2 separate regions of the Homo sapiens genome follow, and region 2 is linked to region 1. The links come from fine-mapping of genetic effects on gene expression. A gene starts in region 1. The other region holds a variant in brackets. All regions are shown on one strand. Distances are between the middles of the regions.

Region 1 (4,389 bases):
ATAGACAGGGACATCACCCCTGAACCCAATAGCATAACATGAATTAAGACCCTTGGTTTGCAGAACATCTTGATCTGGATCAAACTGAAAAGGAACTATCTCAATTTCTCACTATATGAAAAGCTGATATGAGGCTGGGCACAGTGGCTCACACTTGTAATCCCAGCACTTTGGGAGACCGGGGCAGGAGGATCACTTGAGCCCAGGAGTTCTAGACCTGGGCAACATGGTAAGACCCTGTCTCTACAAAATAGGTAAATAAATAAATATTAGAACAACCAGGATGAAATTTTTTAAAAAAGAAAAAAAAATTAGCTGGCGTATGGTGCACATCTGTAGTCCCAACTACTCTGGAGGCTGAGGTGGGAGGATTGGTGGGAGGTCGAGGCTGTAGTGAGCTGAGATTGCGCCACTGCACGCCAGCCAGGGAGACAGAGTGAGACCCTGTCTCAAAAAAATAAATGAATAAATAAAATGCTAATATGAGCTGGAGAGGCAAGAGGAATAGAAGGTAAAAAGAACAACAAGGGAAATACACTTTTTAAGTACAATCAATTAAATATTAAATATTTGGGAACAGTGAGCTCTGAACTGCTTGGGTAAAATTCGCCCTGCCTGGTGGCCTTAAGCACTCCTGCAGGTGGGACCCGGCATCCTAATTCTACCAGGCCTCTTGTTGCTGCCGTAGATGAGCCCCAGACTCGGCCTTCCATTTTGTATTGGATGATGACCACATGTGCCCAGATGTTCTCAGTGAGTAGAGTGGGTCAAGGAGTAAACTATATCGGAAACCGTTGGATAATCATGCCAAGCAGGCTGGGGGCTTCCAGCCTTTGGGGTACTGGAATGCTTTCTTCCCCTGGGACCAGCTGAACTAGCTCTGTAGTTGCCGGGAGAGCAGTGTGCTCTAACACTTGGGCTAGTCCGTTCCCACAGGAAAACTAGAAGAGTCACAAGCAAAGAGTATAAAAGCCCAAGATATTTCTTTAGTCTTTGTATTTAGCTCTATGTCATCAATTTTTTTTTTTACAGGGTCTCACTCCTGTCGCCCAGGCTGGAGTGCAGTGGTGTGATTATGGTTCACTGCAGCCTTGACTTCCCAGGCTTAAATGATCCTCCCACCTCAGCCTCCTGAGTAGCTGGGATTACAGGTGCACGCCACCACACCTGTCTAATTTTTTCTATTTTTTGTAGAGACAGGGTCTCCCTGTGTTGCCCAGGCTGGTCTTGAAGTCCTGGGCTCAAGCGATCTACCTGCCTTGGCCTCCCAAAGTGCTAGGATTATTGCTACTTTCCAATATTTCTACTACAGACTACGGGAAGTCCATTTTTCAATGCCAAATGCAGAAGAAAAAGTTGTATGGATGCCCTTTCTGCCAATCATCCCAGGTTTAGGAGAGAAGAATGATGAGGTCATGTTCATGGAACTTGACGAGTGATAAGCCTCTTTATTTGTCCAGTGCTTGGATACACGAATCGATGCAATGAAAGAGACCTCGCCTGTGAAGAGCTAAGAAATGAGTGTGGGCAGAATCATGAGAAGAAAATAAAGAGATTGCTGAGCAACTCTTCTGACAGTTCTTGTGCTTTTTGAATGTTTCACTCACTACTTATAAAATAACCTATTATGTCAGAGCCTGGCGAGAAGGGATCCTCTCCAACTCTTTGACTAATAATTCCCTAAAACAGGAGGTGGCCTGCAGAAGAACTAAAACCAGAAAAGTTAGGTGGTTGCCTCTGAGGAATGGGATAGAGTTGGAGGGGTGGAGCAGCCCCTTTACTGTCAACCCTTCTGAGCTCTGCTGGATGGTGAGGGAAATTATCTATGTATATTTATGTGGTCCTCTCCCCACTCTGCCCTGGCCTGGCTCAGCTCTAGGTCTCACTCAGCGGGCGTCTGCGGGTGTGCCGGGCCTCAGAGGCTGTCTCCTTAGGAAACAGGCCACCAAGAAGCCCAAGGACATGCTGAGGTCCCACAGCTGGAGGGGCACAGCCGGGACACCTGAGGTCCTCCAGCTGTTGGTCTTTCCCTGGGGTCTCCACCCCAATCTATCCAGCCTCCCAACTCCCCAGCCTGTGGCTTTTTGCCACATTCCACCTGAAAAGACCGCTTGGCTTCTGGGGTCTGGGATCCCTGCTGGCCATGCCTCCTTGAGAGGAGGAGCAGGGGAGAAGCCCGGAGTCTCCTGGCCTGGAGGAGGGGAGCAGTGTGTCAGGACACCCCGGATGGGACCTGTGACAGCAATGACACCTGCCAGCCTGATGCCGCTTGACTCCCTGCCAGGTACTTCCTAAGCAGGAGCACGCTGACTCCTCATGTGCTCTATTACCCACCACCAGATGAGGCAGCAAGTTAACTTTGGCAGTCAGGAGTGGAGACCTTTGGGCTCCAAGCTCAAGGTCCACCCCAAGACACACAGCCCATTAAATCCTTGTTGTAGAGATTAGGGCCCACAACGATGTGAAGGTTATAAGCTGCACTGCATGGTTGCTGCTGGATGTGTTGTGTTCCTGGCTTCCCTCTGGATGCTGACAGAAACAAGGGTGAGAGAAAAGGACAGTAGGAGAGGAGGGAAGGCGGGACTGAAGAAAGGAGGGGAAGGGGGTAGCACAGGGCAAAGTGGAAAAGCAGGTAGCGTCCTTTTTTTCTTCACTAGGGCTTGGCGAAGACCCCTTCGAGGACAGCTCCAGGCCCATCCCTGTGGTGGCCACCCATGGAGACAGTAGTGCTGCTCAGAGGCATTTAGTTTTTGTTTCTTTTCTGTTTTTGAGGTAGAGTCTCGCTCTGTTGCCGAGGCTGGAGTGCAGTGGTGTGATCTCTGCTCACTGCAGCCTCCACCTCTCGGGTTCAAGCAATTCTCCTGCCTCAGCCTCCCGAGTAGCTGGGACTACAGGCACCTGCCACCATGCCTGGCTAATTTTTGTATTTTTAGTAGAGACGGGGTTTCACCATGTTGGCCAGGCTGGTCTCGAACTCCTGGCTTCAAGTGATCTGCCCACCTTGGCCTCCCAAAGTGCTGGGAGTGCAGGCATGAGCCACCGTGCCCCCCCTCTTTTTTTTTTTTAAAGGTAGAGTCTTGCTCTGTGGCTAGTTTTCAATCAAGGTAACACATGGGCTCTCAACAGTGTGCGGAACTCTGCTAGAAAAATCAAATTATGAGAACACTGTTACTGTGTGATCCCCTATTGGAAAATGAATAACATAAAATAACATACATTTAGGAAAAAAAAAGTGGAGAAAAGGCCAGGCGCGGTGGCTCATGCCTGTAATCCCAGCACTTTGGGAGGCCAAGGTGGGTGGACCACCTGAGGTTGGAAGTTCGAGACCAGCCTGACCAACATGGAGAAACCCCATCTCTACTAAAAATACAAAATTAGCCAGGTGTGGTGGCGCATGCCTGTAATCACAGCTACTTGGGAGGCTGAGGCAGGAGAATCGCTTGAACTTGGGAGGCGGAGGTTGCAGTGAACCGAGCTCGCACCACTGTACTCCAGCCTGGGCAACAAGAGTGAAACTCCGTCTCAAAAAAAAAAAAAAAAAGGAGGAAAATGCCACACAAACTCAATAGTGGTCATCCCTGAGGGCTCAGATTCCGGGGACTTTAACTTCCCTCATTCTGTATATTTCTCTAATGTTTAAATGTTTAATGATACACTTGTAATGCTTTGGTAATTCAAATGACAGATGAAGAAAAAATGTTTTCAAAAAGAGGGGGTGTCCATCCACCATCCTCTCCAAACTTCCAAAACAACCAGGAGGTGCCGGTACTAGCAAGTATTTATGCATCATAGAGGATTTTGTCCTGAGCGCGTACCATTAATTATTAAAGAGATGTTGTGAATCCCGTCAGATGAGTTTAATGTTTAGTGTGAGGACTGGAAAACTAAAGCATTCAGCCCTTCGCTTTGCACACCGTTGGCTTAGGTATTCATTTAACAAAGATGAAATGAAGGGGAAATGGTGTGATTTGGTTTTGTTTTCTTGACAGACCTGAAACACTTTTACTATTTCTCACAGCTACACTGCTTTCCTCATTTTCCAGCACAGGAAAATTGGTTGCTGTTATAATAAATCCCCATCTAGTGAGAAAGGGAGATAGAGAAAGATGCAAAATGAAAGATAAAATGCAAAAAGCTAACAGCCTGGCTGGGGAAAGGAGGCCATGGGAAGGAAGGAGGGGGAGGGAAATAATCACATAGGTGGCTTCCTGGAAGAAGCGGCCCTAATAGGCCTGGAAGAGGTCAGTTTGGGAACTGGGGAGAGGGCAGAGGAGGGCATCTCTGATGGAGAAGCAGCAGCCAGTGGGCAGGAGCTGCAGGGAGCCAGGTTGCAAGTGGGCCTGCTTCCTGTATCCCTGAGACCGTGTTGGGGTCCCCACCCTGGCTGTG
Region 2 (4,389 bases), 21 kb after region 1:
GACTACAGGCACCCACTGCCACGCTCGGCTAATTTTTGAATTTTTAGTAGAGATGGGGTTTCACCATGGTGGCCAGGCTGGTCTCGAATGCCTGACCTCAGGTGATCCACCCACCTTGGCCTCCTAAAGTACTGGGATTACAGGCATGAGCCACTGCGCCCAGCCACATTTGAGTTCTTATAAAGTCAGTTAACCTCAAGAGAAATAGTAAGTAAAGAGAGGTACAGTTGGCACAAAAACAAGGCAAAGATTGTGCATGTTGAACTGGAATGAGAAGAGTTTAAAAATATGAGCAGAAAGAAAAGCAGTAGGCTCTGGAATTAGCCTGCTTGAGTTCAGCTCTTCGATCTCCTGCTTATCAGCTAGGACCGGCCTGGATAAAACTGTAGTTAAGTGAATAGACCTTGCTTCCAGAGTGCCTGGGTTGAAATCTCAGCTCTGCCACTTTCTAGATGAGTGGCCTTGGGCCAGTTATTTAACCTCTCTGTGCCTCAGTTTCCTCATCTCTATCAAAAGAACATGTCTCTCGCATCGGTATAGTACCTGGCATATAATAGGTGCTCAATGAACGTTAACTGTCATTAGTAGTACCCAGTGAATTGATGACCGGATTGGGGTGAGATCTTGAGTACCTGATGCCAAAACCTGAATTCTCCCACCCTTCAGGGTGCATCCTGGACAAACAAATCCCAGCCCCAGGGAGGGAAGTGTTGCTGTTAAGGTAGGATCCGTTCCTTGGTCTCAGGTGCTCAGCTTGGAGGTCCAAACTCACATCACATGCTTCTAGGCATTTTGCAGTCATGGCTGGTAGTGTTGAGTCCTGGGTGGCACAGGTCCTTTCTCCCCCAAGGTCAGAGGCTGAGCTGAGCATCACTGCAGCGGTGAGATTCCTGTAGCTGGATGGAGCCAGGTGCTTGTCACTATGCTCAGCTTGGTACATATATCCCCTTATATAATCCTCTCAACAACCTTGAGAAATGAGGGGTCTCTGGCTTCATTTGACCCATGAGGAAACTAGACTCAGAGAGGCAAGGTGATCTGCCTGAGGTCACACAGCGAGGTCAGCCCTTCCCAGCATGTGGTTCCAGAGCTGGTGCTCTTTCCACTCTGCTGTGCTGTTTCTCCTCCTCCCAGCCCTGAGCACCCTTTCTCTGGGTCCCCGGGTGCTATTGTGTGTGGGTGGGGTGGGGGTGCAATGCTGAGGGTAATGGCTTTCTGTCTCTTGCCTGCAGGGGTCTAGCTCTTGCTGCTTTCCTGGGCCTGGTCCTGTGGCTGTCTCTGGACACCTCCCAGCGGCCTGAGCAACTGGTGTCCTTCGCAGGAATCTGCGTGTTCGTCGCTCTCCTCTTTGCCTGCTCAAAGCATCATTGCGCAGTGAGTGCTAGTTGTGGGGCCCAGGGCTGGAAGTGTTTGCCTCTCTCTTCTGCCCCTAGGCTGGATCTGGGAGCTGGGGTATAGGCAGATGTTCCTGTTGGGAGAGCCCTGGAGGCTCAGGGCCTGGAGAAGGCCTGTGTGTATCAGGATAGGCTTCCTGTGAAGAAGAAGTCTTCAAAATCCCCAGCAGGGATGTCTTTCCAGACTCAGAGGCCACCAGGACATTTGTTTCCTTGGTGACATGTCCTCTGGTCAGTCTAATCCTGGTCTTCAGGTCTGTAGGCTCAGGAACCACCTCCACCCCCAACCACAGAAAACACAGGCCAGAACTCCAGCCTGTCTGCAGAGCCAAGGGTTTCCTGGAATCATTAGCTTAAAATAGTGCTTCTCAAAGTCTGCTCCCCAGTCCAGCAACAGCGGCGCCTCCATGGAACTTGCCAGAAATGTAACTTCTTAGGCCCCACCCTAGGCCCACTGCATTAGAAACTCAGGGGCAAGGGCAGCAATCATCCTGTCAGCAAGCACAATTCTGATGTGTACTAAATTCTGATGTGTACTAAATTCTGATGTGTACTAAATTCTGATGTACACTCAGGCAGCCACGCACCCATTTGGGAGGGCCCTGCCATAGGCAGATGGAATCTTCTCTCTCTCTGCCTCCATAGCATAAGATCCCTCCCTGTTTCACAGTGTGGCTACCACCTTCCCCAGGCTACAGCCAAGCCTCCCAGGAGCTTATGATACACACCTGAGCTTGGACTCACTGCTAAGGAATTATTAAATGCTCATCAAGGAACAGCAACCTGAGGAGCCCAGCTCTTGTCTGCTAGGAGGGGCGTGGGGTGTGGGCATGGAGAGAGTCGGGGTCGAGGCGGCTGGGAGTCCAGCCTATTGGAGGAGAGATTGGAGACGGTCAGGCAGACAGGGTTCACACGAGCTGGGAGGAGCTGGGCCCAGAGTAGTCTGGTGCTGATCCTGAGGCCAGACCCCCAGGCCACATCTCTGGCAGTGATGACCAGGAGACGAAGTGCC[A/G]TGGCATGCCCAAGGCTGGTCCGGTTTCACCTGAGTTCTTGGTTAGAATCTTGGCCCACCCCTCCTCACTGCCCAGGCCCATTCCTACCAAGCACATGGCCTGTTCTGAATCCCAGGGAGGGTGTGACCACTGGCAACAGGCCTAGTACTCTGCCTGGCTCCAGCCCCATCCTCTGGGCAGGGCAATGCCCCCTGCTCTCACCCCCACCCGGCTCCCTGCCCATCCCTCAAGGAACTGAACTCAGCTTTCTGTTGGGTGGGGTGGTAGGTGTCCTGGAGGGCCGTGTCTTGGGGACTTGGACTGCAGTTTGTACTTGGACTCCTCGTCATCAGAACAGAACCAGGATTCATTGCGTTCGAGTGGCTGGGCGAGCAGATCCGGGTAGGTATGTGGGGTCTGGCTGCCCAGAGCATCTTAGATTACTGGGAGTAGGGGAGAAGCCACTTGGCAGGGGGAAAAGTGGGTGGTGAGGCCATAGAGAAGGCTTGGGACCTGGAGGGTGGGGTGGACTGGGGCCCCAGACCAGGTGGGCAGCTGGGGACCAGGCAGTGCAGCTGCCACTTCCCTCATGCCTGGTACTGAGGTCCCAATAGAGTAGTCTTTCCAGAGGCTGGGTCTGCAATCAGCAGTAACTTGGAAATTGTAATAGTTAAAAGTGCTAAAAAAAAAAACCCAAATCTGCAAATGATTTACTTCTGTGTGTGTGTGTTTAAAAATAACGTTTATTGAAGTTATACATTTTTGTTCTTTTTTTTTTTTTTCTTTCAAGAAGGAGTCTCGCTTTGTCACCCAGGCTGGAGTGCAGTGGTGCAATCTTGGCTTGCTGCAACCTCCACCTCCCTGGTTCAAGCAATTCTCCTGCCTCAGCCTGCCCAGTAGCTGGGATTACAGGCTCCCACCACCATGCCTGGCTAATGTTTATATTTTTAGTACAGACAGGGTTTCACCATGTTGGCCAGGCTGGTCTCGAACTCCTGACCTCAGACGATTCGCTTGCCTCGGCCTCCCAAAGTGCTGGGATTACAGGTGTAAGCCACCACACCTGGGCCCATTTTGTTTTGTTTTGAGACAGTCTTGCTTTGACATCCAGGCTGAGTGCAGTGGTGTGGATATGGCTCACTGCAGCGTTGACATCCTGGGCTCAAGTGATCCTCCCACCTCAGCCTCCCCAGTATTGAGTAGCTGGGACTACAGGTGTAAGCCACCATGCCAAGCTAATTAAAACATGGTTTGTTTGTTTGTTTGTTTGTTTGTTTGTTTCTTTCTTTCTTTCTTTCTTTCTTTCTTTCTTTCTCTTTCTTTCTTCCTTCCTTCCTTCCTTCCTTCCTTCCTTCCTTCCTTCCTTCCTTCCTTCCCTCCTTCCTTTCTTCCTTCCTTCCTTTCTTTTTTTTTTTTAGGTACAGGGTCTCCCTATGTTGCCCAGGCTGGTCTCAAACTCCTGGGCTCAAGTGATCTCACCTTGAGCCACGGTGCCCAGCCAATTCTGTTTTTTATTTTGGTAAAATATACATAACATAAAATCAACCATTTTAACCCCTTTAAGTATCATTAAATTCATGCACACTTGTTTTGCAACTATCATGATTTACTTTTGTCAAAAGAAAATTAGAACAAATTTAGTTTAAAGATCTTAATTGGCTTTTATTTGTGATTTTAGAATTAGGCAACACCTCATTCTATAAAAATAGAGTGGGTGTTCCGATGAGTTGAGTGGAGGAGGTTGGCTTTATAGACAGAGAAAGGCTGAAGAAAGCAGAAACAGAAAATAAATAGCAGATTGGTTGTTTCAAGGTCACTTTCCTTATAAAGGTCACAGCTGAGGGGACTGCCTGTCATGCTGCATTTGGGGATTTGGCTATCTGTCTCATTCTCCTGATTTTTTGGAAGGTCAGAAGACAGCTTAGTTTTGACTTGTGATGTGGAACTTTATAGCATGAGTGATTCCATTGTGGTTTGGTCTGTTGGGAGTAGTGCAGGAGCTC

Which allele goes with the higher level. Positions count from the first base shown, and alleles are read on the strand shown. Sizes are in standard deviations (SD) of each study's normalised expression.
With allele A in place of G in region 2, the expression in spinal cord of the gene that starts at base 2,455 in region 1 is lower (moderate effect, 0.58 SD a copy in GTEx).

What was found. PIP is the estimated chance that this variant, and not a neighbour inherited with it, causes the effect.
Region 2: its variant is the best candidate, but not a certain one, in a credible set for the expression of SLC28A1 in spinal cord (GTEx, PIP 0.60).

The regions. Positions count from the first base shown.
Region 1 is chr15:84,882,208-84,886,596 of GRCh38, forward strand. It overlaps SLC28A1 (solute carrier family 28 member 1), which reads left to right and starts at 2,455. Exons shown (of 19, transcript NM_004213.5): 1 at 2,455-2,544. RefSeq lists enhancers at 1,534-2,034, 2,035-2,535.
Region 2 is chr15:84,902,865-84,907,253 of GRCh38, forward strand. It overlaps SLC28A1 (solute carrier family 28 member 1), which reads left to right. Exons shown (of 19, transcript NM_004213.5): 7 at 1,233-1,374; 8 at 2,675-2,788. Among named protein-coding and RNA genes, the nearest start is that of SLC28A1, 20 kb to the left of the region's middle. The variant A/G (reference allele first, on the strand shown) is at 2,407.